Regions from separate parts of the Homo sapiens genome. Here region 1 is linked to region 2. The links come from fine-mapping of genetic effects on gene expression. A gene starts in region 2. The other region holds a variant in brackets. All regions are shown on one strand. Distances are from middle to middle.

Region 1 (15,515 bases), 39 kb before region 2:
ATTAAGCAGTTAGGAGGAACTGTGGTTCATCTCCAGGTGATGAAGGAAAATTCTTTACAAAAGAATATAGACGTACCGGAGAAGAGTTGACTCATGCCAGTAATCCCAGCACATTGGGAGGCCGAGACGGGAGGATCGCTTAGGGCCAAGAACATGAGACCAATCTGGGCAACGTAGGAAGACCCCATCTCTACAAAAAATTTTAAAAATAAAAAAAATTAGCCAGACATGGTGGTGCACTTGTAGCCCCAGCTACTCTGGAAGATGAGGCAGGAGGATCGCTTCAGCCCAGGAGGCCAAGGCTGTGGTAAGCCATGATTGCACCACTGCACTCCAAGGTGAGCGACAGAGTGAGACCCTATCCCTAAAAAAATAAAAATAAAAACAGACTGGGCGTGATGGCTCACCCCTGTAATCCCAGCACTTTGAGAGGCCAAGGCGGGTAGATCACGAGGTCAGGAGTTTGAGACCAGCCTGGCCAAGATGGTGAAACCCCATCTCTACTAAAAATACAAAAATTAGCTGGGTGCAGTGGCAGGTGCCTGTAGTCCCAGCTACTTGGGAGGCTGAGGCAGGAGAATCACTTGAACCTGGGAGGCAGAGGTTGCAGTGAGCCAAGATCGTGCCACTGCACTCTAGCCTGGGCAACAGAGCAAGACCCCGTCTCAAAAATAAATAAGTAAATAAATAAAATAAAAAATAAAAGCAAATAAAACTTTCCATTTTGTAACCCCCAATAAAATAACAGAGTAAGGCAAGGATCATCAGTGGATGCTAAACCATTAGGTGAAAGGATGTAGTGAAATGGGATGTTTGCCCTGTGCCAATGTATCATCTAGAGATTACTGGAATTTTGCAAAGGGGGGAAATACATCTTTTCCGTGGAGAGATCTAGTGGTCACAGTCTTTTTTTTTTTTTTTTTTTTGAGACGGAGTCTCGTTCTGTCGCCCAGGCTGGAGTGCAGTGACGTGATCTCGGCTCACTGCAAGCTCCACCTCCCGGGTTCACGCCATTCTCCTGCCTCAGCCTCCCGAGTAGCTGGGATTACAGGCGCCCACCACCACACCTGGCTAATTTTTTGTATTTTTAGTAGAGACAGGGTTTCACCGTGTTAACCAGGATGGTCTCGATCTCCTGACCTCATGATCCACCCACCTCGGCCTCCCAAAGTGCTGGGATTACAGGCGTGAGCCACCGCACCCGGCCAGTGGTCACAGTCTTAATTGAGAGATCAAATTTAGCATCACTAAAAGTGAAACAGCCAGACATTATGTGGCTCTTGATAAGGAGCATTGGGATATTCAAGGCTTTGCCCAAGAAGTGTTGTGGCCATTGTGTTTAACCTGGATGTGATCGTGTCTTTAGATCTAACTTCCAGTATGCAGGAAAAATAGGGAATAGAGGAGTGTGCTGAGTAATACAACAGGGAAGCAACCAGATGAATTCAGAAGGTGCGACATTCTACAAACTACCTGACCAGAGCTCTTCCAAAAGTCAGTATCTTGTATAGGGAGATTATTCTAGATTTTAAAAAGATTAATGGACATACTAAGCAAATGTAATGCATGAAGCTTAATTGGATCCTATTTTAAGAAAATACAGGCTGGGCGCAGGGACTCACACCTGTAATCCCAGCACTTTTGGAGGCCGAGGCGGGCAGATCACTTGACCCCAGGAGTTTGAGACCAGCCTGGGCAACATGGTGAAACCTCATCTCTATAAAAAATACAAAAAAAATATCCTGGTGTGGTGGGATGCACCTGTAGCCCCAGCTATCCAGGAGACTGAGGTGGGAGGATCATCTGAGTCCCGGAGGTCGAGGCTGCAGTGAGCCAGGATTGTGTCACTGCACTCCAGCCTTGGTGACAGAGTGAGACCTGTTTCAAAAAAAAAAAAAAAAAGAAAAGGAAAGAAAGAAAGAAAAGAAAAAGAAAACAGCTATAAAAGACATTTGAGGGGAACAATTGTAGAAATTTGAATGTGGACCAGGTATTAGATGATAGCAGGAAATAATTATTCATTTTCTCTTATGATTATCATTGTGGTTATGAAGGACAATATTCTTGTTCTTAGGAGAAGCAGGATGAAGAATTTAGGAGTGAAATGCTGTGATGTCTGCAATTTACTTTCTTTTTGGTGGGTAATTGGGGGAGATGGGGTCTCACTCTGTTGCCCAGGCTGGAGTGCAATAGTGCAGTCTTGGCTCACTACAACCTCTACCTCTTGGCACCACAGCCTCCTGAGTAGCTGGAACTACAGGTGCATGCCACCACACCTGGCTAATTTTTGTAGAGACAGGTCTCGTTATGTTGTCCAGGCTGGTCTCCAACTGCAATCCGCCCACCTCGGCCTCTCAAAGTGCTGGGATTACAGGCATGAGCCACAGCGCCCTGCAAATGTACTTTCTTTTCTTTCTTTTTTTTTTTTTTGAAACGGAGTCTCACTCTGTCACCCAGACTGGAGTGCAATGGCACGATCTCGGCCCACTGCAACCTCTAACTTGCGGGTTCAAGTGATTCTCCTGCCTCAGCTCCCGAGTAGCTGGGATTACAGTCGCCTACCACTGCACGTGCCCAGCTAATTTTTGTATTTTTAGTAGAGACGGGGTTTCACTGTGTTAGCCAGGATGGTCTCGATCTCCTGACCCTGTGATCTGCCTGCCTCGGCCTCTCAAAGTGCTGGGATTACAGGTGTGAGCCACTGCGCCCGGCCAAACACTTATAATCTGAATCAAATCATGAGGAAACATCAGGCAACCCCAAATTGAGGGACATTCCAAAAACAAAGCAAGCCTGAACTCTTCAAAAGTGCCAATGGCATGAAAGACAAAGAAAGGCTGAGAAAGTGTTCTAGATTGAAGGAGTTGAAAGAGCCACAATGATGGAATACAATGTTCCTGGATTGGATCCTAGATCAGAGAGAAAAATTACTCAAAGGCACTTTGGGAGGCCGAGGCGGGCTGATCACAAGGTCAGGAGATGAAGACCATCCTGGCTAACACGATGAAACCCTGTCTCTACTAAAAATAAAACAAAAAAATTAGCCGGGCGTGGTGGCAGGCGCCTGTAGTCCCAGCTACTCAGGAGGCTGAGGCAGGAGATTGGCGTGAACCCGAGAGGCGGAGCTTGCAGTGAGCCAAGATCGCGCCACTGCCCTCCAGCCTGGGCGACAGAGCGAGACTCCATCTCAAAAAAAAAAAGAAAAATTATTCAAAGGACATGTTTTGTTTTTGTTTCTTTCTTTTTTTTTTTTTTCTTGAGACAGGGTCTCACTCTTGTCACCCAGGCTGGAGTGCAGTGATGTGATCACTGCTCACTGCAGCCTCGACCTCCCCAGGCTCAGGTGATTCTCCCACCTCAACCACCCAAGGAGCTGGGACTACAGGTGTGAACCACCATGCCCGGCTTATTTTTTTTTTTTTTTTTTTGTAGAGATGGGGTTTCACCATGTTGCCCAGGCTAGGCCTCTAACTCCTGGGCTCAAGGGATCTGCCCACCCACCTCAGCCTTCTAAAGTGCTGGGATTACAGGTGTGAGCCACCACAGCAACCTGTTTTTGTTTCTTTTTCTGCGGGGGCGGGAAGGGCCAAATTTTAAAATGGTTGTATATTAGAAAAGAGTGTTACATTAATGTTAAAATCCCGAATTTGATAACAGTATTGTGATTGTGTAAGAGAATGTCTTTGTCCTTAGGAAAGACAAACTTTTTAGAGGCAAAGGGGCACGCAGTCTGTCATTAATCTCAATGGATAAGTAAGAACATATATGTTATTAATTAATTTTTTTTTTGAGATGGAGTCTCGTTTTGTTGCCCCGGCTGGAGTGCAGTGGCGTCATCTCAGCTCATTGCAACCTTTGCCTCCTGGGTTCAAGTGATTCTCCCACTTCAGCCTCCCAAGTAGCTGGGAATACAGGCATGAGCCACCATGCCCAGATAATTTTTGTATTTTTAGTAGAGATGGGGTTTCACCATGTTGGCCAGGCTGATCTTGAACTCCTAGACCTGAGGTGATTTGCCCACCTTGGTCTCCCAAAGTGCGGGATTACAGGCGTGAGCCACTGCGCCCAGCCATGTTATTAATTTACATGTCTAGAGAGAGTGAGTGATAGACCAAATGTGACATAATGTAATCAGTTGATGAATCTGGATGAAGGGAACACAGCAGTGCTTTGCACTATTCTTGGAACTCTATCATAAATTTTAAATTATTTCAATGTAAAAAATTTGTTTTTAAAATCTAAATTAGACCTAGACTATTTGGGAAGGCAGCTTCTAATTTTGGCAGGAGCTAAAAACATGGAGATGAAGAGGAAATTAATCTTGATACAATAAAGATTTTTATTACTTTATTACTTTATTACTTGCTTTGTCGCCCAGGCTGGAGTGCAACAGCTTGGCTCACTGCAACCTCTGCCACCTGGGCTCAAGTGATCCTCCCACCACAGCCTCTCCAGTACCTGTAACCACAGGTGTACATCTCCAGGTCCGGCTAAATTTTGCATTTTTTGTAGAGATGGGGTTTCACCATGTTGCCCAGGCTGGTCTCGAACTCCTGGGCTCAAGTGATCTGTCTGCCTCGGCTTCCCAAAGTGCTGGGATTACAGGTGTGAGCTACTGTGCCTAGCCTAAAGCTACTTTTTTTTTTTTGAGATGGAGTTTCGCTCTTGTTGCCCAGGCTGGGGTACAATGTCTCAGTCTTGGTTCACTGCAACCTCCGCCTCCTGGTTTCAAGTGATTCTCCTGCTTCAGCCTCCCAAGTAGCTGAGATTAGAGGCATGCGCCACCACGCCCGGCTAATTTTGTATTTTTAGTAGAGACAGGGTTTCTCCATGTTGGTCAGGCTGAACCCGACCTCACATGATCCGCCCGCCTCGGCCTCCCAAAGTGCTGGGATTACAGGTGTGAGCCACCACTCCCGGCCCTAAAGTTACTTTTATTTAAATATCTTTATTGGCTGGGTGGTGGTATGTGCCTGTAATTCTAGCATGTGGGAATGCCAAGGTGAAAGGATCACTTGAGGCAAGGAATTCATAACCAGCCTAGGCAACATAATGAGACCCTGTCTTTACAAAAAAGTTTTTTTAATTAGCCAGATGTGGTGGTGCACACCTACATAAATAAATAAATAAATAAATAAATAAATAAATAAATAGGGCCGGGCACAGTGGCTCACGCCTGTAATCCCAGCACTTTGGGAGGCGGAGGCGGGCAGATCACGAGCTCAGGAGACTGAGACACGGTGAAACCCCGTCTCTACTAAAAATACAAAAAATTAGCCGGGCGTGGTGGCGGGCACCTGTAGTCCCAGCTACTTGGGAGGCTGAGGCAGGAGAATGGCGTGAACCCGGGAGGTGGAGCTTGCAGTGAGCCGAGATTGGGCCACTGCACTCCAGCCTGGGTGACAGAGCAAGACTCCGTCTCAAAAAATAAATAAATAAATAAATAAATCTATGTATCATTATTGCCCTAGTATTTCTTTCAGTTTTGTCTTTTTTTTTTTTTTCTTTTGAGACAGAGTTTCACTCTTGTTGCCCAGGCTGGAGTGCAATGGTGTGATCTTGGCTCACTGCAACCTCTGCCTCCCGGGTTCAAGCGATTCTCCTGTCTCAGCCTCTGGAGTAGCTGCGATTGCAGGTGCCTGCCACAATGCCCTGCTAATTTTTTGTATTTTTAGTAGAGACGGGGTTTCACAATGTTGGCCTTGAACTCCTGACCTCTGGTGATCCACCCACCTCGGCCTCCCAAAGTGCTGGGATTACAGGCGTGAGCCACCGCGCCCAGGCTTCTTTCAGTTTTCAGGAATGTTGTGGAGCTGTGTCCTGTTTGCCTCATGGAGCTGATGAGCTGGGAGAATTCAAGGGGGTTGATGGAAGGGGAGAAGGTAAGTCCCCAAGTGACCCAGTTGAAAACCAGGGCCTGGGCCAGGCACAGTGGCTCATGCCTGTAATCCCAGTACTTTGGGAGGCTGAGGCGGGAGGATTGCTTGAGGTCAGGAGTTGGAGACTAGCCTGGCCAACATGGTGAAACCTCGTCTCTACGAAAAATACAAAAATTAGCCAGGTGGGGTGGTACACGCCTGCAGTCCTAGCTACTTGGGAGGCTGAGGCAGGAAAATAGCTTGAACCCGGGAGGCAGAGGTTGCAGTGAGCTAAGATTGTGCCACTGCACTCCAGCCTGGGCGACAGAGCAAGACTCTGTCTTGAAAAAAAAAAATGTTGTGTTTCAAACAACTTTTGACAATCAGTGCTGTAAAGCTGAATCCCAGAGACAACTGAGATAGGAGCAGGAAGATCTGTGGTCCAGTCTCCCTCTGGCCTTATAATTATCTTCCTGAGTTACTTACCTTCTTTGAGACAGTGTTTGCTTGTCCTCCCAACTAGCCTGAAAACTTCTTAGGAGAAGGGCCAGCCTTTGGGGTCATGTTCCTGTGTGACCTGTCTCTAGGAACTTCTGCATACCCAGCTCTGCCCACTTGGAGCTAGTGTCCAGGACTCCACAGCACTACCCGCACTAAATACCTCGGTCTCAGTCTTGTGACAGAAAGTGGCCAGTGTGGTGGACATAGTGCAGAGGTTTAGGGTCTGACCAACCTGGGACAGCAATTTATGGGCTAGGTGACATCCTTGAGCAACTGTATGACCTCAGGCCTGTCATATGGTCTCTGAGCCTCAGGTTTTTCTTCTGTAAAATGGGAGTGATAAAACCGACTTCTCTGCTGGGTATGGTGGCTCACGCCTGTAATCCCAGCACTTTGGGAGGCTGAGGCAGATGGATCGCTTGAGCTCAGGAGTTGGAGGCCAGCTTGGGTAACATGTCAAGACCCTGTCTCTACAAAAAATATAAAAAATTGGCTGAGTGTGGTGGTGTGCACCTGTGGTCCAAGCTACTCCGGAGGCTAAGGTGAGAGGATCGTTTGACCCCTGGAGTTAGAGGTTGCAGTGAGCCGAGGTCACTGCACTGCACTCTAGCCTGGGTGACAGAGTGAGACCCCATCTTAAATAAATAAATAAAGTATTTTGTGTAAACACTTGTAACTGTATTTCATTGAGTGTGATACATGTATATACAAAGAAACATAAATAGTTGCCAGTTAAACTATGACACATCATCATCAACTGGAACTGGAACTGAAATCACATACTGACTTCAGCAATGTGAAACATTGGCCGGTCGCGGTGGCTCACGCCTGTAATCCCAGCACTTTGGGAGGCCGAGGCGGGCGGATCACGAGGTCAGGAGATTGAGACCATCCTGGCTAACACGGTGAAACCCCGTCTCTATTAAAAACACAAAAAAATTAGCCGGGCGTGGTGGCGGGCGCCTGTGGTCCCAGCTACTCAG[T/G]AGGCTGAGGCAGGAGAATAGAGTGAACCCGGGAGGCGGAGCGTGCAGTGAGCCGAGATAGCGCCACTGCAGTCCAGCCTGGGCAAAAGAGCGAGACTCCATCTCAAAAAAAAGAAAAAAGAAAAAAAAAAGAAATGTGAAACAAAGGCCGGGCGTGGTGGCACTTTGGGAGGCCGAGGTGGGCGGATCACCTGAGGTCAGGAGTTTGAGACCAGCCTGGCCAACAGGGGTTAAAAATACAAAAATTAGCCGGGCATGGTGGTGCATGCCTGTAGACCCAACTACTCAGGAGGCTGAGGCAGGAGAATTGCTTGAACCGGGGAGGCGGAGGTTGCAGTGAGCTGAGATTGTGCCACTGCACTCCACCTTAGGCAACAGAGGGAGTCTGAAAAAAAGGAAGAGAAAAGAAAGAGAGAGAGAGAGAAAGAGAGAGAGGTAGGGAGGAAGGAAGGTGGGAAGGGAGGGAAGGGGGGGAAAGGGAGGGAAGGGAGGAAAGGAAGGGAAGGAAAGGAAAGAAAGGAAAGAAAAGATAGAAAAGAAAGGTGGCTCGTGCCTGTAATCCCAGCACTTTGGGGAGCTGAGGCAGGCGGATCACTTGAGGCCATGAGTTCGAGATCAGCCTGGCCAACATGGCCAAACCCTGTCTCTACTAAAAATACAAAAATTAGCCGGGCATGGTGTCTTTGCACGCCTATAATCCCAGCTATCCCTTGAACCTAGGAGTTGGAAGTGGCAGTGAGCTGCAGATTGCGCCACTGCACTCCAGCCTGGGGGACAAGAGCGAGACTCCGTCTCAAAAAAAAAAAAAAAAAAAGTGAAACAAAAAGTGTGCCTTAAAATAGATGAAGTACTGTATTATTATTATTATTAAAGGGCTGGAGCCAGAACAAGTTAGCATTTTGTGCCTCGAGATTCAAATCCCAGGTCTACCATTTATTCCTTGGGTGACATTTTTTTGGGGGGAGGGGCTGGAGGACAGGGTCTCACTCTGTCGCCTAGACTGGAGTGAAGTGGCGCGATCTCGGCTCACCGCAACCTCCGCCTACCGCGTTCAAGCAATTCTCCTGCTTCAGGCTCCCGAGTAGATGGGACTACAGGCGCGCGCCACTACCGCCCGGCTAATCCTTGCGTCACTTTAAGCAAGACACTTGATCTCTCTGTGCCTCAGTTTCCTCACCCGCAGAATGAATATCAATAGCTCCTGCTACACAAAACTGTTTGGGCTATTAAATATGTGAATACTCAGAAAGTACCTGGCACAAAGTAGCCTTATCATTGCTATTATTTAGAACAAAGTTATTGTTTCCAGGTTTGGAGGTGGGCTGGCGGAGGGAGGAGAAGACGCACTAGGTTGCCTTTCAGAAAAGGGGTCCAGGCCTTATCCTGCCTCCCAGGTGGACTCGGCCCGGGATCCCGAGCCCCGCCCCCTCCAGGCCCCGCCCCGCCCCGCCCTCGCTGGCCGAGACTCTGTGCTACTCTCGCGCGCTTTGAAAGTGCGCGAGCTCCGACCGAGACCTGGGCCGGCGGTTGGTCGGCCGAAACCATCTGCTACGTTACGTGGGGGGAGGTCAGCTCCTATACAGCCACACTTTTTTCAATCTTCAGCTTTTCAGGCCTAGGTCCTGGTTTTATTTTAGCTTTCAGAGCTTCTCTGTAGGCTTGAATTTCCAGGAGGCAGCCCGAGTCCCTGGGGAGAGGGTCATCGTGGCTCTCGTCGGTGCCTTCCACCTCTGGACAGGCAACCGGTGGGAGAGGACGCCGGTGGGCGGGGGGAGGAGGCGGCCCTAGCGCCATTTTGTGGGAGCGAAGCGGTGGCTGGGCTGCGCTTGGGTCCGTCGCTGCTTCGGTGTCCCTGTCGGGCTTCCCAGCAGCGGCCTAGCGGGTGAGTCGCGGAGCCTTCTCACTGAGGACGCCGTAGGTGCCTCGGCTTCTGCATTGGGGCGGCCCGAGGCAGACGCAGCGGCTTCGGACCCTGCCCCGGGAAGTCAGCCGTGAGACCGGGCCTAGTCCTGCCCGAGCGGGCTCGCGCGGGAGCGTCGTTAGGTCCTGGCACGGGGAGGCCGGTGGCGCCGAAACGGGGGGCCGGGCCCGCGGTGCCGCGTAGCCTGAGGCGGAGGTTGGCCCCGGACCCGGACAGTGCCGGAGCCTTCGGTACTTTGTACTTCGAGGGACGCTGCCAGCTTGGGCCTGGTGCTCCTGCGCCCCACCCCGGGCCGCGCCGAGAAACTCCTCCCTCGGCTGGCACGCGCGGGCTTCTGGGAGGCGACGGCCGGCACCGCCAGGACCTGTCGCCGCGGGCCTTGGGGCTCGGGCTCGCAGAGCCCCCGGAAGCCCCAAAATGAGGAACAGAGGGAAACTTTTCTCCTGTTCTTTACACCTGGTTCACTGCCCATATTCAGTCTTCAGGTTCAGCTGATGGATCGCTTGCTTAGGAAAATCGACTGGGACCTATCACGCCCATGCCTCAGCCAGTTAGGCTCCTCCTCTGCCTTCAGGATTACTTAACGACTAACCCGATTGTCATAAAATAGCTACTGTTTATTGTTCCCTTGCATACCCTAGCTTGTAACCAGCAAGCCACGTTGGACTCACAGTTACAGTTTCAGTACCTGACGCATCATAAGCCTTCAGGGAAAGTTTTTTGAATGAATGAACTGGCGAGGCATCACATTTTGATAGGAAATCACTACCCTTACCTTCACCTCGTCATTTTTCAGGGATAACCAATGCATATACGAATCCAGACAAGCATTTTTCTGGAAGTCAGAACTCTGACATGGTTTGGGTATTATCATTATAAGGAAACAGTTATTCTGACATGAATGTTGTTCATTCATATCTCTTTTCTCTTTAGGAAAAGTAAAAGATGTCTGAATATATTCGGGTAACCGAAGATGAGAACGATGAGCCCATTGAAATACCATCGGAAGACGATGGGACGGTGCTGCTCTCCACGGTTACAGCCCAGTTTCCAGGGGCGTGTGGGCTTCGCTACAGGAATCCAGTGTCTCAGTGTATGAGAGGTGTCCGGCTGGTAGAAGGAATTCTGCATGCCCCAGATGCTGGCTGGGGAAATCTGGTGTATGTTGTCAACTATCCAAAAGGTTTGTTACCATTTGGTTTTTGTAATCATGCTGAAGTGTGTTCAGGTGTGTGTCTCATCCATGGATCTTAGCCTCTTTTGGTGGCAGAATGTCTCCTGAAACTTAAGTATTTCCTTGAACTTCAGTGTTAGACAAGTTTGGAAGACCACGAGTCTAAATTTATGGAAACTGGGGATTGTAGATCATTTTAAAAGAGAAAACAATGTATTTAAAAAATATCTGAATAAACTTTGCCAAGTTGATGATAAATTTCAGGAATCACTAAGAATGTTTTGTACATAAATCATTGTTGTAAATAGATTCTTCTGAAGTGCTTCAGTGTTTGGATTTGATCATTGTCCTTTTGGTGTTACATCATTCATTCAGCAAATCTGAGTTCATTTTTTCCCTTAAATGAGCAAACAGTTGGAGTAGCCAAATCTTGAATTAGTGCAGTTCCAATTACAATTTCGAGGTTCTGGTCTTATCCTTCTCTCTGCCTCTTATCAATGATGTTCTAAATCTAAGAAAAGGAAGCATGAAGTTTAAGAAGTGTGCCAAGGAAATACCTAATTTCAGCATTTTGAAGTAGTGTGCTGTTAGTAGTCGATCTGTCTGTGTGTTCCTTTTATTATAACTTGGTATTGCAACAAAGTCCATCAAATTTGGTCAGTATGCAAGACACCCTTTTACATGTCTAGGAAAACTTTAGGGCTAGGCACGGTGACTCATGCCTGTAATCCCAGCACTTTGGGAGGCCGAGGCAGGTGGATCACCTGAGATCAGGAGTTTGAGATGAGCCTGGCCAACATGATGAAACCCCATCTCTATCAAAAACACAAAATCTCTGGATGTGGTGGTGGGTGCCTGTAATACTAGCTACTCAGGAGGCAGACGCAGGAGAATCGCTTGAACCGGGAGGCAGAGGTTGCAGTGAGCAGAGATTGTGCCATTGCACTCCAGCCTGGGCAACAAGAGCGAAACTCCGTCTCAAAACAAAAAAAAACGAAAACAAAAATTGGCGTGGTGGCGGGGGCCTGTAGTCCCAGCTAGTCTGGAGGCTGAGGCAGGAGAATCGCTTGAACCTGGGAGGCGGAGATTACTTTAAGCTGAGGTCGCGCCGCTACACTCCAACCTGTGACAGAGCAAGACTTCGTCTCAAAAAAAAAAAAAATTGATAATGTAAACTCGGGGTTTTTAGTATGCTGTTTCTTCAGCCAGTGGGTATAGATTAATATTTACTCAAATTTAAAATGTCAGGCTCGGTGCAATGGCTCACACCTGTAATCCCAGCACTTTGGGAGGCTGAGGCAAGCAGATCACCTGAGGTCCGAAGTTCAAGACCACCCTAGCCAACATGGTGAAACCCTGTCTCTACTAAAAATTCAAAAATTAGCCAGGCGTGGTGGTTCGCGCCTGTAGTCTCAGTTATTTGGGAGGCTGAGGCAGGAGAATTGCTTGAACCGGGAGGTGGAGATTGCAGTAAGCTGAGATCGTGCCACTGCTCTCTGGCCTGGCAGCAGAGCGAGACACCGTCTCAAAAAAAATTTTTTAAATGTCATTTAATTTATCTCCCCAGGCTGGACATGGTGGCTCACATCTGTAATCCCAGCTACTCGGGAGGCTGAGGCAGGAGAATCACTTGAACCCGGGAGGCAGAGGTTGCAGAGAGGGGAGATTGCGCCACTGCACTCCAGCCTAGGTGACAGAATGAGACTCCGTCTCAAAAAAAAAAAATTATCTCCCCTTCTCTTCTAAATAACCTAAGGTTGAGGTTATTTGGGGGGTTTTTTTGTTGTTGTTTGTTTGTTTGTTTTTTGAGACAGTCTCACTCTGTCGCCCAGGCTGGAGTGCAGTGGCACGATCTTGGCTCACTGCAACCTCCGCCTCCCAGGTTCAAGCAATTCTCTGCCTCAGCCTCATGAGTAGCTGGGATTACAGGTGCCTGCCACCACGCCTGGCTAATTTTTGTATTTTTATTTATTTATTTTTATTTGTTTATTTATTTTTTAGACGAAGTCTCGCCCTTGTCGCCCAGGCTGGAGTGCAGTGGCACGATCTTGGCTCACTGCAACCTCCGCCTCTTGGGTTCAAGCGATTCTCCTGCCTCAGCCTCCCAAGTAGCTGGGATTACAGGCACCTGCCACCACGCCCGGCTAATTTTTTCTTTATTTTTAGTATAGACGGCGTTTCACCATCTTGGCCAGGCTGGTCTTGAACTCCTGACCTTGTGATCCACCTGCCTCAGACTCCCAAAGTGCTGGGATTACAAGTGTGAGCCACCGCGCCCAGCCAGTTATGTTTTTTTAAGTAAGCCAAACTTTTGGTTTCTTTTTCTTTTTTGAAATTAGAGATGGAGGCTCTCGCTCTGTTGCCCAGGCATATTGCAGTGGCTATTCATAGGCACACTGCAGCCTCAAACTCCTGGACTCAAGTCGTCCTTCCTCCTCAGCCTCCTGAGTTGCTGGAACTTACAGGCATACACACCACTGTACCTGGTTTTCTGTTTTATTACAAAAGTTGTGTATTTGTTGTTGAATGTTTAGGAAAGATAAAAGTTAAATCTTCATCAGGATATACAAGTTGCTGATATTTAAAGTCAAAGTGAAGTAGAATTATTTTTGTTTTGATAAACCTTTTGAGAGGGAGAGATTGTAATCCGGAAATGCTACAAAAAACAAACTTGGAAATCACTGAATTTGCACCAGAAAAGCACCTCAGACACTAAACTTAAGCCTTTATTCTGTCCTCTAGAGCAAACATCACTTCTTGCCAAGTTTTCAGTGTCTTATTCTTCTTAGAGTCTTCTTTTTGCTTCTCATTTCTAGATGTAGGAGGTAGTGTTTTTAAAGAAGTGCTAAGTGAAGATTTCTAAAAGGTTTCTGCTCGTTTTATTTAGATAACAAAAGAAAAATGGATGAGACAGATGCTTCATCAGCAGTGAAAGTGAAAAGAGCAGTCCAGAAAACATCCGATTTAATAGTGTTGGGTCTCCCATGGAAAACAACCGAACAGGACCTGAAAGAGTATTTTAGTACCTTTGGAGAAGTTCTTATGGTGCAGGTAAACTTCGATTGCATCAAACAGTTTTTCTTTACCAGTGAATGAGTATCTAGCATTTATTTATTGGTATAAATAGAGATGGGGTATCACTATGTTCCCTAGGTTCTGGCGTCAAACTCCTGGGCCCATACTGTCCTCCTGCCTCGACCCCAATGTGCTGAGCCACCATGCCCAGCCACAATCTTGTTACCTTTCTTTTTTTTTTTTTTTTTTGGAGACCAAGTCTCACTTTGCTGCCCAGGCTGGAGTGCAGTGGCACGATCTTGGCTCACTGCAACCTCCACCTCCCGGGTTTAAGTGATTTCTCCTGTCTCGGCCTCCTGTATCTGGGATTACAGGTGCCCGCCATCATGCCTGGCTAATTTTGTATTTTTAGTAGAGACAGGGTTTCACCCGTTGGCCAGGCTGTTCTTGAACTCCTGACCTCAAGTGATCCACCTGCCTTGGCCTCCCAAAGTGCTGGGATTACAGGTGTGAGCCACCGCGCCCGGCCACATTCTTGTTATTTTAATGGCACTGTCCTTTCTGTTACACAGATGATACTTCCAATATTTGTTATATTTATACATATATGTTGTACCCTATGTTATTGCCTTTGATATTGTAAAATCCTACTGTTGCATGAAGGCTTAAGGGAAGTAGGTGACAATAGCTTTTCTTTATATATTAAACTAATGGGAGGTTTTTCCATTTCATTTAAAATTTGTAAACATTAAATTTAGTTTATCTTTGAATTCATTCTAAGACATTCTGTTAAAATCCTGTTGTGGTGGCTCATGCCTGTAATCCCAGCATTTTGGGAGGCTGAGGTGGGAGGGTTGCTTGAGGCCAGGAGTTCAAGGCCACCTTGGCGAACATATCCAGACTCAGTTTCTCTTTTTTCTTTTTTTTTTGAGACGGAGTCTTGCTCTGTCACCCAGGCTGGAGTGCAGTGGCATGATCTCGGCTCACTGCAAGCTCCGCTTCCCGGGTTCATGCCATTCTCCTGCCTCAGCCTCCCAAGTAGCTGGGACTACAGGTGCCTGCCACCACGCCTGGCTAATTTTTTGTATTTTTAGTAGAGATGGGGTTTCACCGTGTTAGGCAGGATGGTCTCGATCTCCTGACCTCATGATCTGCCCGCCTCCGCCTCCCAAAGTGCTGGGATTACAGGCGTGAGCTACTGTGCCTGGCCTCTCTTTTTTTCTTTTCTTTTTGGAGACAGGGTCTGGCTCTGTCAGTCAGGCTCTAGAGTGCAGTGGTGCAATGTAGGCTCGCTGCAACCTCCACCTCCTGGGTTCAAGCTATTCTTGTGCCTCAGCCTCCCAAGTAGCTGGGACTACAGGTGCATGCCACTACACCTGGCTAATCTTTGTATTTTTTGTAGAGACAGGGTTTTGCTGTGTTGCCCAGGCTGGTCCTGAACTCCTGTGCTCAAGCGATCCACCCTCCTCAGCATCCCAAAGCACTGGGAATACAGGTGTGAGCCACCGCGCCTGGCCCCATCTCTCTTTTTTAAAAAACTCAAAAACATTTCTGTTGTATAAGTGAGTTTTGCTCTGTTGTTAACACAGTATGGATTCAATATTAACCTCCTTGTTTTTACTGTTAAGACTAACTTGGTTTAAGTTTTAAGCCACTGCATCCAGTTGAAACCATTCAAATTGTTTTCTAAGGAACTATGATTTGGGAATGGAGTGTGTGAGTATGTGCACTTTTAGAGTAAACTTGTATCATCCTTTCTAGGTCAAGAAAGATCTTAAGACTGGTCATTCAAAGGGGTTTGGCTTTGTTCGTTTTACGGAATATGAAACACAAGTGAAAGTAATGTCACAGCGACATATGATAGATGGACGATGGTGTGACTGCAAACTTCCTAATTCTAAGGTACTTGCGTCTGTGCTTTGGGAATTTTTGCCAACAAACTTCCTTAGAGGATTGTAAGATAAAATGTTAAACACACTTAGAAAAGATAGCGGCAGGGTGTGTTCATGAAATCCTTTTGTCTTGTTGAAGTCTTTGGCCCTTAGTGCATGCTGAATATTTTA
Region 2 (14,290 bases):
AGACCTTGAGAAAGTCGTAGGGACACAGGGTTTCAGGGTGTGTCTCCACATCGAAGGACTCCACAAAGTCCAGAATGACACTGAACCCCTCCTCCAGGCTGATGCTGTAAGTGCAACTGGAGAGTTTGGGATACGGCCGTGGGTATTCAGGGCTGCTGAGCTCCCCAGACCTCTGGGTGAAGACCTGGCCGGAGCACAGGGCTGGAAGGAGGGAAGGCAGGGGAGTGACTTGGCGTGCCCTCTATCAGCCCTCGCACCAACAGCAGGGTGGATGCCTTGGGGAGCAGGAAACTGGGACAGGGATGTGGCTGGGACATCTGCATCCCTGGGTTGGGCTGGGCCCTGCAGGTGGCCAGCCCCTGAGGCCTACCCAGAAACCAAACGACCCACCCGATGGCTGAGGGGCCGCTTAGAGAGGGGGTTTCTCTTGCTTTGAGGCTTTAGCTGAAACAGGCAGCACTCGGGATGGAGCGCACAGGCCCTCACTCACACCCCCAGGGAGCGTGGTGGTGTCCTGAGCCAGAGTCGCAACCCCAGGGTAGGGGCTAGAGCACTGAGTTCCACCAGGCTCTGCCGGGGCGGGGGGCGGGGGTGGATGGACACACAGGAAGGAGGAAGAAGGGACACTCTCCTTGGTCCCTGGGAATTCGGGAAAAGAGAGGAGCATCTCCTCGAGCCTAAGGGCCCCTTCGGAGCTCCCCTAAATTCCCTTACAGCCACCCCAGTGATTCCCAAGTTTATTCATCAGGGGTCTCCTACCCGAACCCAGCCAAGACCAGCCAGCCCCCTGGGTTCCTGGAGGAACCATCCGGAAGAAGGGTCTCTCATCACCCCCTTTCCCCAGGTCTGACCCCTGCCCTGGGGGCTGCTCCTGGAAGTTCAAGGCAACAGTGATCATGACTGAGTCTGGTGCTCTCCTTCCTCGCTGGAACAGCTGATGCTGCTGCCACGGGCGGGGTGTTGGGCTGGGCTCTATCCCTCAAGGAAGGCTTGGTCCCCATCCCATACCACCACCCCACCCCCAGCTGCAGTGGGGGGCATTTGAGTTGTGAGGCCTCTAGGAAGTGAGGAGCCCCAACATTGCCTGCCTTCTTCCACGTGGCTGTGCCCTATGGGGCAGTGGGAATCACCCCTGGATTTGCGGGGGACCAGATTACCCCTCAATGAATATCTCCCAGGGTGTCTCCTCTGTGGGTCAGGCTCCTCCAGGCCAGACCCTGAATGGGGGTGGTTCAAGATTACTCTGGGCTCAGCCTCTGGGGACCTGGACTCGAGCGAGGCCTTGCCCCTCTCCGGGCCTCAGTGCCCCATCTTCAAAACGGGGGGTGAGGCCAAGGAGCCTGTGGCCCCATGGAGGAGGCTCCCACAGACCTGGGGTTCATGAGGCTGTGAGGAGGGTAGGCAGAGAGGAGCGCACCCCGCCGCCTCCCGACCCTCCCACCCCAGAGACACGTGGCAGCAGGTGGGGTGGGGCCAGGTTTATTATTGGGTCCATGGTGGGTGAATGGGAGTTGGGGCACAGCCATCTCAGCCCAACCCGGAGCTGAGGCCAGCAGGCTGGCTCTGGCTTCTGACCTGCTGGGCAGGCCGGAGCTCCAGGGGAGGCTAGAGGCTCTGCTCTGGAAGAGAGATCAGAGAGGCAAGGAGAGACACCGAGAGGGAGAAACCGAGTCGGGGGAGGCAGGGTCAGCGCCAGCAGGTGGGGCTGCCCACGCCCCAGAGCACTGGCCCGTCCCACAGTGCAGGGAACCAGGGAACCAGGTCCCAAGGAACGAGGGCTAGATACCCCCGACTCTCCCGTGGCTACATGAGGGGTTCCCAGAGCCCAGGTGGAACCAGGTACACAGTGGGATGTTAGAATTAGTCTCAGTCGCTAGGGCAGGGTGGCACTGATGAGCCTGGCTGCTGAGAGGGGAAGCAGGGCTGAGAAGGGGAGCTGGAGGCAGCAGGGCCTAGAAGCACCCAGTGTCCAGGGCCCAGGCCCTCCGCACCCCTGGGCAGAGCAGCAATGGCCCTGAGGAGCCCCGGGTATCCCAGGAGAGGGTGCGTTGGGGCCCAGGCAGCCTCCCTCACCTGAGCAGGTGCGCTTGTTACGGTGCAGGACGTAGCCTGCGCGGCAGGAGCAGTAGAAACCGCCCAGGTGGTTGTGGCAGTGGTGGTCGCAGGTGGGCGCCTCTCCCGGGGCCACCTGGCACTCGTCAATGTCTGGGGGAGAGGCAGGGCCAGGCAGGCCGTCAGGAGGGAAAGAGGCGGGATCCAGCCTGGACTCCTCCCAGGAGATCCATGACCTCAGAGTGGACCTCAGAGGAGGCCTCGTCCTGTCTAGGGTGCGGGACTGGTGCCGGGCCAATCACCTTACAGGCCTAGGGTCGCTGCAAGCTCCCAGCAGCGCTGGGAGAAAGATGCAAACATCACCTCTGTTAAACCAGTGGGAGTTTCAGTGTCCGGCCCGAGGTCACCCAGCTAATGAGGGGAGTCAATCAAACCCAGGGGGCGGGGCTACAGCGCTGAACCCTTGCAGCAGCTTCCTAAGGAGCAGAGAAATTGAGCCACTTGCCAGAGGTCACACAGTTGGTCTCTGCAGGGACTGGGATCTGAAATCAAACATCCTGGCAGCGCTCCCGCTGGCAGGGCCCCACTTTGTCAGCTGTAAATGGGGCCCTCGGCCCCTGCGTCGTTTTTGTTTTTTGTTTTTTGAGACGGAGTCTAGCTCTGTCGCCCAGGCTGGAGTGTAGTGGTGCAATCTCTGTTCACTGCAGCCTCCACCTCGCAGGTTCAAGCAATTCTCCTGCCTCAGCCTCCCTAGTAGCTGGGATTCCAGGTGCGCACCACCACGCCCAGCTAATTTTTGTAGTTTTAGTGGAGATAGAGTTTCACCGTGTTGCCCTGGCTGGCCTTGAACTCCTGACCTCAAATGATCAGCCAGCCTCGGCCTCCCAAAGTGCTGGAATTACAGGCGTGAGCTGCTGCGCCCGGCCAGTCCCTGCGTCACTTGAGGCGATGCTGTCCTCAGATCCCTGGCTCAGAGTTGGCACTCAGCCCATGTGAATGGAGGTCACGGCTGTTTTGGTCTTTGCATTGTGGATGATGTCAGGCCAGAGGCCTCTCCCCTGCCCTGGGAAAGGTGGGGAAACTGAAGGCAGGGCTGCCTGGCCTAAGACAGAGTTACCCCCACAGCCAGCTGCGCAGACTGAGATGTTGCAGGACCCCTCTTGGCTCACCCTCGGCTGCATAGAAGGCCTCGAACCCCGTGAACGGCTTCTCGTTGGAGTAGTCGGAGCGGAAGGTAATGTCCAGGCTGGAGCCCAGCGAGTAGAAAGTGTCCTTGCCAGGGGCCCGCTCCGTGTCTGTGCTCTCCTGCCCGCACAGCGTGGCCAGCACCTTGGCCCCCGAGCTCAGCTGTGGGGTCAGGTGTCACAGGGAGTGAAGGCAAGACCCAGGCCTGATCTCCCTCCTGGCCAAGCCTGGCCCCTGCTCCCAGGTGTCCCTGAACCCTGGCTACTCCTTGGGGACCCCCCGACCCTGAGAAACCCCAGCCCTCCCGTCCTGACGGCACCTTGACGAAGTCGTACTCGCAGAGGTGGGAGAGCTCCAGGTCGAAGTGGGTGAAGTAGAGGCGCAGGCGGTAGCCGGGGGGTGCAGTCAGGGTCCAGCGCCGCTCCTGGTCATTGGCATACTCCCCTGGAAAGCCGGGGGATGCCAGGCGCCCGAACACAGGTTCAGGCCACTTCGGGCCCAAGGGGGTGGCCACCGAGCCACACAGAAGGCCCAGGAGGGTCAGCAGCCTATGGGCAGGGCAGGGGCGGTGAGGGCCCAGGCCTGTGCTCCCACCCCACACCCTGCAGGGAGGCTGTGGGCGCCCACCTACCTCATGGTGTGCCCGTCCAGCTGGCCTGGCCTGGTCTGCAGCCCTACGCTGGTCTCACCTTTGATCTGTTTGTCCAGTGACCTGCCCCTGCCCCCAGCCTCCCTGACTCTGGGATTCTGGGAATCGACTCCATGACTCCAGCCTGCTCAGAGTTCCAGGCAGGCAGGACAGGCTGCTCTGGGAGCCAGGAGTCGGACCTAGGTAACAACAGCCTGGAAACAAATCCTGGCTCTGCCCCTCACCCCTCCCTTTTTTTTGGATCTTGTTCTGTTGCCCCGGCTTCAGTGCAGTGCTGCAATCATAGCTCACTGCAGCCTCTACTTCCTGTGTTCAAGCAATCCTCCCACCTCAGCCTCCCAAGTAGCTGGGATTACAGGCGAGCACCACCACACCTGGCTAATTTTTTATTTTTGGTAGGGATGGGGTTTCTCCATGTTGGTCAGGCTGGTCTTGAACTCCTGCCCTCAGGTGATCCACCTGCCTTAGCCTCCCAAAGTGCTGGGATTACAGGTGTGAGCCACCGTGCCCAGCCTCAGGCTGGCTAATTTCTTAAACCCTGTCAGAAGGACCTGGTGCCACCAATTCCCGATTCCCTTGCAGGCTTAGAAGTCGCTTTTGGCTGGGCTCGGTGGCTTATACCTGTAATCCCAGCACTTTGGGAGGCCAAGGTGGGTGGATCACGAGGTTGGGAGTTTGAGACCAGCCTGACCAACATGGTGAAATCCCATCTCTACTAAAAATACAAAAATCATCCAGGTGTGGCAGCGCGCACTTATAATCCCAGCTACTCGGGAGGCTGAGGCAGGAGAATTGCTTGAGCCTGGGAGGCGGAGGTTGCAGTGATCCGAGATCGCACCACTGCACTCCAGCCTGGACGACAGAGTGAGACTCCACCTCAAAAAAAAAAAAAAAAAAAAAGAAGTTGCTTTCCAGGCAGTTATTTCACACCTGTTTATCTGTTCTTCCAGCTTCCAGAACTTTGAGGCTGCTGCTTCCTCTTCCACACTCTGTCCTCATGGATTCATGTCTTGTCTTTTTTTTTTTTTTATCCCCTTTATATTTGTTTTTGTTTTTTGTAGAGATGGGGGTCTCCCTGTGTTGCCCAGGCTGGTCTTGAACTCCTGAGCCAAAGCGATGCACCTGCCTCAGCCTCGCAAAGTGCTGGGATTACAGGTGTGAGCCACCAAACCTCTGCCTCCGGGGTTCGAGCAATTCTCCTGCCTCAGCCTCCCGAGTAGCTGGGATTACAGGCATGCGCCACCACGTCCGGCTAGTTTTGTATTTTTAGTAGAGACGGAGTTTCTCCATGTTGGTCAGGCTGGTCTCGAACTCCCAACCACAGGTGATCCACCCGCCTCAGCCTCCCAAAGTGCTGGGATTACAGGCGTGAGCCACCATGCCTGGCCTATTTTCTTTTAGAGACCGGGACTCTGGCTGGGTGTAGTGACTCCTGCCCATAATCCCAGGAGGCTGGGAGGCTGAGGCAGGTGGGTCGCCTGAGACCGGGAGTTCAAGACCAGCTTGGGCAACATAGCAAGACCTTGTCTCTAAAAAAAAAAAAAATTTTTTTAAATTAGCCAGGCATGGTGGCATGCACCTTTAGTCCCAGCTACTTGGCAGGCTGAGATGGGACAATCGCTTGAGCCCAGGAGGTCTCAAGGTTGCAGTGAGCCATGTTCATGCCATTGAACTCCAGCCTGGGTGACAGAGTAAGATTTTGTCTCAAAAAATACATACATAGCAATAATAATAATGCAAGAAAATTTCCCAGAACTGAAGAACGTGATACTGATCGAAAGTGTGCCCCAAGTGCCCAGAAAAGGAGATAAAAATATTAATACAGCTTTACACATATTTAAAAACACTGGAGAGAATAATTATGTTTTACAAACAAAGAGAAAGAGAAAAATCAAATAGTAAATCACATGCAAAAGATCAGGAAAAAGAATTATTTTGGAGTTAAACCTCATCTCTACTAAAAATACAAAACTTAGCTGGGCATGGTGTTGCGTGCCTGTAATCCCAGCTACCTGGAAGGCTGAGGCAGGAGAATCGCTTGAACCTGGAGGCTGCAATGAGCCAAGATTGTGCTACTGCACTCCAGCCTGGGACACAGCGAGACTCCATCTCAAAAAAAAAAAAAAAAAAAAAAAAAAATAGACGGAGTCTCGCTCTGTCCCAGGCTGGAGGGCAGTGGTACGATCTCAGCTCATTGCAGCATCCACCTCCTGGATTCAAGCGATTCTGCTGCCTCAGCCTCCCAGGTAGCTAGGATTAGAGGCATGTGTCAACACGCCAGGCTAATTTTTGTATTTTTAGTAGAGACAGGGTTTCACCATGTTGGCCAGGCTGGTCTCGAACTCCTGACCTTGTGATCCGCCAGCCTCAGCCTCCTAAAGTGCTGGGATTACAGGCGTGAGCCACCATGTCCAGCCGAGACTCCATCTTAAAAAAAAAAAGAAAAGAAAAAGAAAGAAAGAAACTACACCTGTCTTGTGACTGCTCATTAATCTTGCCAAGGTGGAGGCCGGGCACGGTGGCTCACACCTGTAATCCCTGCACTTTGGGAGGCTGAGGTGGGTGGATCACGAGGTCAGGAGATTGAGACCATCCTGGCTAACACGGTGAAAGCCCGTCTCTACTAAAAATACAAAATTAGCCGGGTGTGGTGGTGGGCACCTGTAGTCCCAGCTACTTGGGAGGCTGAGGCAGGAGAATGGCGTGAACCCGGGAGGCGGAGCTTGCAGTGAGCCAAGCTCGCGCCACTGCACTCCAGCCTGGGTGACAGAGCAAGACTCCGTCTCAAAAAAAAAAATCTTACCAAGGTGGTGGTTCAGCCCCCGAACAGGGAAGAGAGTAGTTTTAGGGAGAACTATTATTATTCTTGTTTCAAGTTAAACTCTAAATTCCTCCGCCGGTCAGCTGGGCCTACACCCAGGAATGAGCAGGGTCAGCTTGGAGGTCAGGAGCAGGATGGGGTCGGTTATGTCATAATTTTGCAAGGGTGGTTTCAATAGGAAGACATAAGGTCCAAGAGATGCCATTCACTAAGGGACTCCATTGGGGGCGGTGAGAAGGCTCTGGACAGCTTCTCCAGAAAGGGGACGATGACAGAACACCTGTTGAGTCCAAGGAGCATTAGAGAATTGGTGAAAAATTTGGGGCCAAATTAGTGATAAATTTATTGAAAACTAAGTAAATGAGAAACAAACAAAAAAAGAACCTCCAGGGAAAACAAGAAGCTGTGTAGGAGATAAAATGTTATCATAAGGCCAGATGCGGTGGCTCACACCTGGAATCCCAGCACTTTGGTGGTTTGTTTTTTTTTTTTTTTTTTGAGATGGAGTTTTGCTCGTTGCCCAGGCTGGAGTGCAATAGCGCGATCTCGGCTCACTGCAACCTCCGCCTCCTGGGTTCCAGTGATTCTCCTGCCTCAGCCTCCCTAGTAGCTGGGATTACAGGCATGCACCACCACACCCGGCTAATTTTGTATTTTTAGTAGAGATGGGGTTTCTCCATTTGGTCAGGCTGGTCTTGAACTCTTGACACTGGGCCCAGCCTTAATCCCAGCACTTTGGGAGCCCGAGGCGGGTGGATCACTTGAGGTCAGGGGTTTGAGACCAGCATGGACGTGCCTGTAAGCCCAGCTACTCCGCCTCCCAAGTTCAAGCAATTCTCTTGCCTCAGCCTCCCCAGTAGCTGGGCTTACAGGTGCCCGCCACCACACCCGGCTAATGTTTGTACTTTTAGCAGAGACCACGTTTCACCATGTTGGTCAGGCTGGTCTTGAACTCCTGACCTCAGGTGATCCGCCCGCCTCGGCCTCCCAAAGTGCTGGGATTACAGGCATGAGCCACAGTGCCCTAACTCAAGCAATTCTTAAACAAAAGCCTGGTCAGGCGCGGTGCTACCTGACTGTCAGTTACATGGAGGCGGGCCAGAGTGCAGCCTGATCAATGCTAAATTATAACTCTATTTCTGTCCAGAATTATTCTTTTATTTTTTCTTTTGCTTTTTCCTTTTATTTTCTTTAACTGGTTTTTTTCTTTTTTTTCCTTTTTTTTTTTAAGACAGAGTCTTGCTCTGTCACCCAGGCTGGAGCGCAGTGGCGCGATCTCGGCTCACTGTAACTGTAACCGCCCAAGGGGTTCACCTTGCCAGCTGTCTAGACAGAGCTGATTCATCAAGACAGGGGAATTGCAATAGAGAAAGAGTAATTCACGCAGAGCTGGCTGTGCGGGAGACCAGAATTTTACTATTACTCAAATCAGTCTCCCCGAACATTCGGGGAGTAGAGTTTTTAAGGATAACCTGGTGGGTAGGGGGAAGCCAGTGAGCCAGGAGTGCTGACTGGTCAGAGATGAAATCACAGGCAGTCGGAGTCAGAGCTGTTTTCTTGCACTGAGTCCTGGGTGGGGGTCACAAGATCAGATGAGCCCGTTTATCCATCTGGGTGGTGCCGGCTGATCCATCAAGGCAGGATCTGCAAAATATCTCAAGCACTGATCTTAGGAGCAGTTTAGGGAGGGTGGGAATCTCGTAGCCTCCAGCTGCATGACTCTAAACCATAATTTCTAATCTTGTGGCTAATGTTAATCCTACAAAGACAGTCTAGTCCCCAGGCAAGAACATCTGCTTTGAGAAAGGGCTGTGACCGTCTTTGTTTAAACTATAAACTAAATTTCTCCCAACGTTAGTTCAGCCTACGCCCAGGAATGAAGAAGGACAGCTTGGAGGCTAGAAGCAAGATGGAGTTGGCTAAGTTAGGTCTCTTTCACTGTCTCAGTCATAATTTGGCAAAGGCAGTTTCACAACTTCCGCTTCCTGGGTTTAAGTGATTCCCCTGCCTCAGCCTTCCGAGTAGCTGGGGTTATAGACGTGCGCCACCACACCAGGATAATGCTTGTGTTTTTAGTAGAGACGAGGTTTTGCCATGTTGCCCTCCCAACACTCCTGGCCTCAAGTGATCTGCGCACCTCGGCCTCCCAATGTGCTGGGATTACAGGCATGAGCCACCACCCGGGGCTGCGCTCATTGTTCATGAATTTGTACAGCTTCATCTCCAGAGCCCTCCTGATCCTTTCCTGGCAGTCATTGGGTGGGGTGAAAGTCCCAACCCTTCAGTCTTTAGGTCTTACTTACCAGCCCCACCCTGAGGCTCCCCCGGGGCTCTACCCTAGACCACTGCATTAGCATAAACTCGGGAGTTCTCTAACAGAGCATATAATGAACGACAAGACACGCCTACCGATCAGGAATTTCCAAAGGTGTTAGCGGCTCCGTGACAGGAACTGGGGACAAACACCAAATCGATTTCTTCTTCTACTACAGAAGATAAACCCCAAATAATCAGCTCCAAGAGGGAAAGGGGCTGCGGGAGGAGGACTGTGATTTTTCTTCTGACAAGCCGCACGGACCCATGAATCCTTAAGCCAGGGGCCTGGCTAATTATCATAAATCAAATTTTGAAAAGTCTAGATAGGATTGATGTTATTCCCCATGCCACACTGGGCCTGTTTGTGGCCCAAAGATTTCTGGGACGCTGGGGGACCCAGGTTGTGTCCTCATCAAGGCTGTTTCTGTTTCAGCAGATCATCCTGGGCTGCATCGCACCCACCCAGTCGTGGGGCTCAGGCTTGCCCCCATCCCTGGTGCATGCCTCTTCGCGGCGGCCAGGTGTGTGTATAGACTATAGGCTGGGGAGGCGCAGGATCTACGCTGCCGGCAACTTCATCTTCCTGCAGCTGCTTCCCAGATCTCCTGCCTCCCAGATGGCCCCGGCTGTTTCCACAACCTGGTCCACCCTCCCTTCTCTCGGGCCGGCACTGGTTGAGGGCTGCGTCGCACGTGCTTCTCACCAAAGCTTCCTAACAGGGACGGTGTGCTCCCCCTCTGACATCGGGGTAACCGGCAGAGGGCCTGCGTGGCTGCAGGTCACAGAGCTGAGGGAGGCAGAGTTGAGATTGAGATCTGGACCGATTCCAGAGCCCTTGGGGAAAGGCCCTCACACTTAGGGGGTCACGGGATCGTCCCTCTAAGGGGGCAGCATTCCCTGCCTGGATCTTGGCCAGGGAGTAGATGTCAGAGAGACCATCCATGCCGGGACCTCCAGAGTGCCTGGCCTGAGATGCAGGAGACCCTGGGGTGAGCAGGGTGGAGTGGCGTCGGACGGTGGCTGCTGATTGGCTGTGTGTCCTTAGGCACATCGCCTTGCCTCTGTGCAGCAGGAACAATGCCTGGCGGGCAGGTGGTTGTGAAGGTTAAATGAAAGTGCCTGGCCCACCCAGCTGCAGCCTGGCCTGTCAGGCTCCAGAAATAGCCCCTGCCAACCCACCTGAACGCCAGCTGCTCCTCTCGGGCCTTCCCTGAGACTATGAAGGCCCGGGGGCAGACGCCAGCTCCCCAGACTGATTTGAAAGGTCAGGGTGGCCTGGAGAAGTTAGCCTGAGGTCAGATCTGCTGATGGGCCAAAGGTCTGAAGGTGCTCAGTCTGGTGAATTCACAGGGGTGGGGAGTGGGGGGCAGGTGGAGACTGGAGGGCTATGACTGGCCTGAAGCCAGAGTTGATGGCGAAACTGAATCCCCCTTACTCTGGTGTCCCAGAAAACATACCCGGGTGAGTTAGGGCTCCAAGGTGGCTGCCTCGGCTGGGAGTGGGGCCTCCCTCCCTGATGCGTCCGCTAGCCCAGCCCCTGCCCAGGGTGGGGAAAGGGGTTGGCAACTCAGGCCCATGCAAAGAGGGTTCCTTTCCTGTCCTCCCACCACCGTTGGGTCCTGGAAGGCGGGAGTTCAGCACCTTGGAGAGGGGACAGCCCTGGTCCTCGCAGTCCCTGGTGGGGTGCCCACACTTGCTTTCTCAATTTGTCCACATAGGGGGCGGGGCATGGTGGGAATTTGAACCCAAGTCTGAATGCCGGGTGGAGTCAGGGCACAGTCACTGGGCCAGTGTTAAGCTCCTGATGTGCTTAAAAAGGCCGAAGGTAACCAGCCCCGCCACCCCTTCCTGTATTTGCCCTGGAGTACCTGGATGGGACCTGACTTACACCTGTGAGTGTCCCCAATTTTTCTGAGAATGCTCCCGGGCAGCCCCACCCTGATCTCACCCACCCCACTGCCCTGGGGGGCTGTCACCAGTGGCCTTGTGAAGGGCTTGGTAAAAGGACAGCTAAGTCAGCTTCCCAGGACAGCTCTGGGTCCCACGTGACGACTGCGGTGACCCTCTGTGCCCCAGGCTATCCACGATGGCCCGCCTGCAGCCTCAGCCCTGCAGCAGACACTTGGGGGTCAGCCAGCAAGGCCTCTGCAGACCCTCACCCCAGAGGCACCCAATGGTGAATGTGGCCCTGCCTGGGCCCAGCCAAGGTCAGGAGACACAGGACTCCAATCTTTGCTATAAATACACGTGTTTGGTGAGTGAGGGGCAACAGAAGGCAGAGAGATGGCGCTGTACACAGCTGGTATAGGCTTGGAGGTGGAACGCCAGAGAGACAGACACACAGACAGTCCGCCCAGCAGGGCAGGCCGGGCAGCATTCTGGGGCTTGTAACACTTGGTTGGTGGGCGAGAGCCAGCAGGAGGTCCGGCCCGGGGCTGGAGGGGCCGAGGCACCCCGCAGGCTCCAAGGTCCGAGGTCCTGGGTGGCATCAGTGGTGGCGCCTGGGCTCAGCTCACATCATTCAGGGCCTGGAGGGACATGAGGCCAGTCAGGAGGGCGCTCTGGGTCCCTGGGTCCCACCACCCAGCCCCGCAGGCCACCCACCTTGCGGGCAAACTCGGGCAGCACAAAGGCGGCGCGGTGCACGTCGGAGTTGTAGTACTTCAGCTGCATCTGCGCCACCTGCTGCTGTGTCAGCGGCTGCACCGGCTCCTGGAAGTTCGTGCTCTGGGGACCGGGCCAGGGGCACATCAGGGGGGGCACTTTTTTTTTTTTTTTTTTGAGACGGAGTCTCACTGTTGCCACGCTGGAGTGCAGTGGCGTCATCTCAGCTCACTGCAACCTCTGTCTCCCAGGTTCAAGTGATTCTCCTGCCTCAGCCTCAGGTACGCGCCACCACGCCCGGCTAATTTTTTTTTTTTTTGTATTTTGAGTAGTGATGGGGTTTCTCCATGTTGGTCAGGCTGGTCTTGTACTCCTGACCTCAAGTGATCCGCCCACCTTGGTCTCCCAAAATGCTGGAATTACAGGCATGAGACACCGCACCTGGCCTGGGGAGGGTTTTTTTTTTTTTTTGAGTCGGAATCTTCCTCTGTTACCCAGGCTGGAATGTAGTGGCGCAATCTCGGCTCACTGCAAGCTCCGCCTCCCGGGTTCACGCCATTCTCCTGCCTCAGCCTCCCCAGCAGCTGGGACTACAGGCGCGCGCTGCCATGCCTGGCTAATTTTTTTGTATTTTTAGTAGAGACGGGGTTTCACCGTGTTAGCCAAGATGGTCTCGATCTCCTGACCTTGTGATCTGCCCGCCTCAGCCTCCCAAAGTGCTGGGATTACAGGTGTGAGCCACCGCGCCCGGCAGGGGCAGGGATCTCTATTTATGCCCACCTTCCCCCCAACCCCCACCCCCAGACACCCCCATCTCACCGGGTTCTTGCTGCACAGCATGAAGCCGATCTGGCCGCTGGGGTAGGTGGGGATGGTGCAGTAGGCATAGGCCACCACGGGGAACAGGGACTGGCAGAACTGCCGCATCTCCTTGATGAGGTCCAGGTGCAGCCACTGGCACTCGCCTGGGGGCCCCTAAGCATCAGCATCCGGCAGGGCCTGCCCTGCCCCACCCCGCCCCGCCCCAGTGCTCCAGGCCTGTGGCTCACCCTGGCAGCAGAGGACACCATCTTCCTTGAGGGCTGTCTTCATGAGCTGGTAATAGGACTCCTTGAAGAGACTTTCGGCGGGGCCTGGGGAAGACAGAGGGAGACACACTGAACAGTCTGGCTGTGACCTCCAGGGCCACTGTCACCCACACAGCTACCAGGTGGCCAGAGCCAGGATCTGAACCCAGGTCTGTGGGGGATCCACACCTGAATCCCATTCTTGGGGGAGTCTCATTGGCACCACAGCAGAGGAACCTCTAACCTAGGCCTTCGTTCAAGACTAGAACCTGCCCCCACTCCAGTGCTGACCACTTCAGAGCAGAGGGGAGGCTGAAGAGGACACAGGGTCCTCAGTGTCCCAATGCCAGATCCCCACTCTCCTTGGTCACCAGCTTGTGAATCTGGGCAGTCGCCTGGCTCCTGCCTACTGTCCTGAGCCATGTTTCAGAGGGCAGGTAACAAATGAGAAGGGAAAAGTACAGCTCTAGTTCGGGGGGTGGGAGGCCGCTCTATCCTTTACTCTGAAGGCCTGGGGGAGGCTGACCTCCAGACCTGCAGCTGCCAGAAAACCCTGGGGCCCATCCACTGCTTACCCATGGGGTCTGAGGAGTCAGTGATGATCACGTCGAAGGCATCCTGATTCTGTTTCATGAACTCAAAACCGTCACCCACATGTAGGGTCAGCTTCGAGCTAGAGTAGCCAATGGCCATGCCTGGCAGGAACTTCTTGGAGACTTGGATGACATCCTGGAGGGGATGGGAGGGACCAGTCTGGGCCAAGGGGCTGGGGGACCTGGAGCCAGCACAGCCACGTGGGACTCTCCAAGTGCCTCACAGGCAAGCCGCCTTGGCCAACCCCTTCCCTTTTTTTTATTATTTTTTTTTGAGACAGGGTCTCACTTTGTGGCCCAGGCTGGAGTGCAGTGGCATCGATCATGGCTCACTACACCCTCGGCCTCCGGGGCTCAGGTGATCCTCCCCCATCAGCCTCCTGAGTAGCTGGGACAAGTGTGTTCAATCATACTTGGCTACTTTTTAAATTTTTGGTAGAGATAGAGTCTCCCTATGTTGCCTCGAACTCCTCGATCCTCCCACCTCGGCCTCCAAAAGTGCTAGGATTACAGCTGTGAGCCACCACACCTGGCCCCTTTTGGGAACCTCAGTTTATAATGTGTAAAGCGGGGAGAACTCTGGTACCTCCATTTCTCCTTGAGAGCTGGCTCCTGCCGGCGGCTTGGGCTCCTCTCTCCCATCCCTACCCCCTCCTTCCAGACCAAATCGCCCCATCTGAGTGGCTTTCTTGTCGCTTCCTATTTTATTTATTTTTCGAGACAGTCTTGCTCTGCTGCCCAGGCTGGAGTGCAGTGGCACGATCTCAGCTCACTGCACCCTCCTGCCTCAGCCTCCCGAGTAGTTGGGATTACAGGCGCACGCCACCAAGCTGGGCCATTTTTTTTTTTTTTTTTTTATTTTTAGTAGAGACCTTGTGATCTGCCCGCCTCAGCCTCCCAGAGTGCTGAGATTACAGGTGTGAGCCACCAGCGCTTGGCCTGTTTCCTATTTTAGAAGGATGCAATTCCAACCTCTGGCCAGGAGAACCTCCCCCTCCCTGCA

Direction of the effects. Positions count from the first base shown, and alleles are read on the strand shown. Sizes are in standard deviations (SD) of each study's normalised expression.
As copies of G replace T in region 1, the expression in tibial nerve of the gene that starts at base 3,905 in region 2 goes down (small effect, 0.17 SD a copy in GTEx).

Evidence for each region. PIP is the estimated chance that this variant, and not a neighbour inherited with it, causes the effect. A credible set is the group of variants that fine-mapping cannot tell apart.
Region 1: its variant is the best candidate, but not a certain one, in a credible set for the expression of MASP2 in tibial nerve (GTEx, PIP 0.72).

Annotation. Positions count from the first base shown.
Region 1 is chr1:11,003,520-11,019,034 of GRCh38, forward strand. It overlaps TARDBP (TAR DNA binding protein), which reads left to right and starts at 9,135. Exons shown (of 6, transcript NM_007375.4): 1 at 9,135-9,224; 2 at 10,197-10,446; 3 at 13,325-13,488; 4 at 15,214-15,354. The coding sequence starts at 10,209. RefSeq lists silencers at 8,568-8,797, 10,207-10,453 and enhancers at 8,838-9,167, 8,878-9,845. The variant T/G (reference allele first, on the strand shown) is at 7,343.
Region 2 is chr1:11,043,335-11,057,624 of GRCh38, forward strand. MASP2 (MBL associated serine protease 2) reads right to left here and starts at 3,905. Exons shown (of 11, transcript NM_006610.4): 1 at 3,869-3,905; 2 at 3,557-3,785; 3 at 3,222-3,399; 4 at 2,074-2,205; 5 at 5-201. The coding sequence starts at 3,873. SRM (spermidine synthase) reads right to left here. Exons shown (of 8, transcript NM_003132.3): 4 at 13,270-13,423; 5 at 12,677-12,760; 6 at 12,447-12,592; 7 at 11,628-11,750; 8 at 11,255-11,551. The coding sequence ends at 11,531. RefSeq lists enhancers at 2,410-3,242, 8,734-8,813, 9,421-9,500, 9,831-10,080.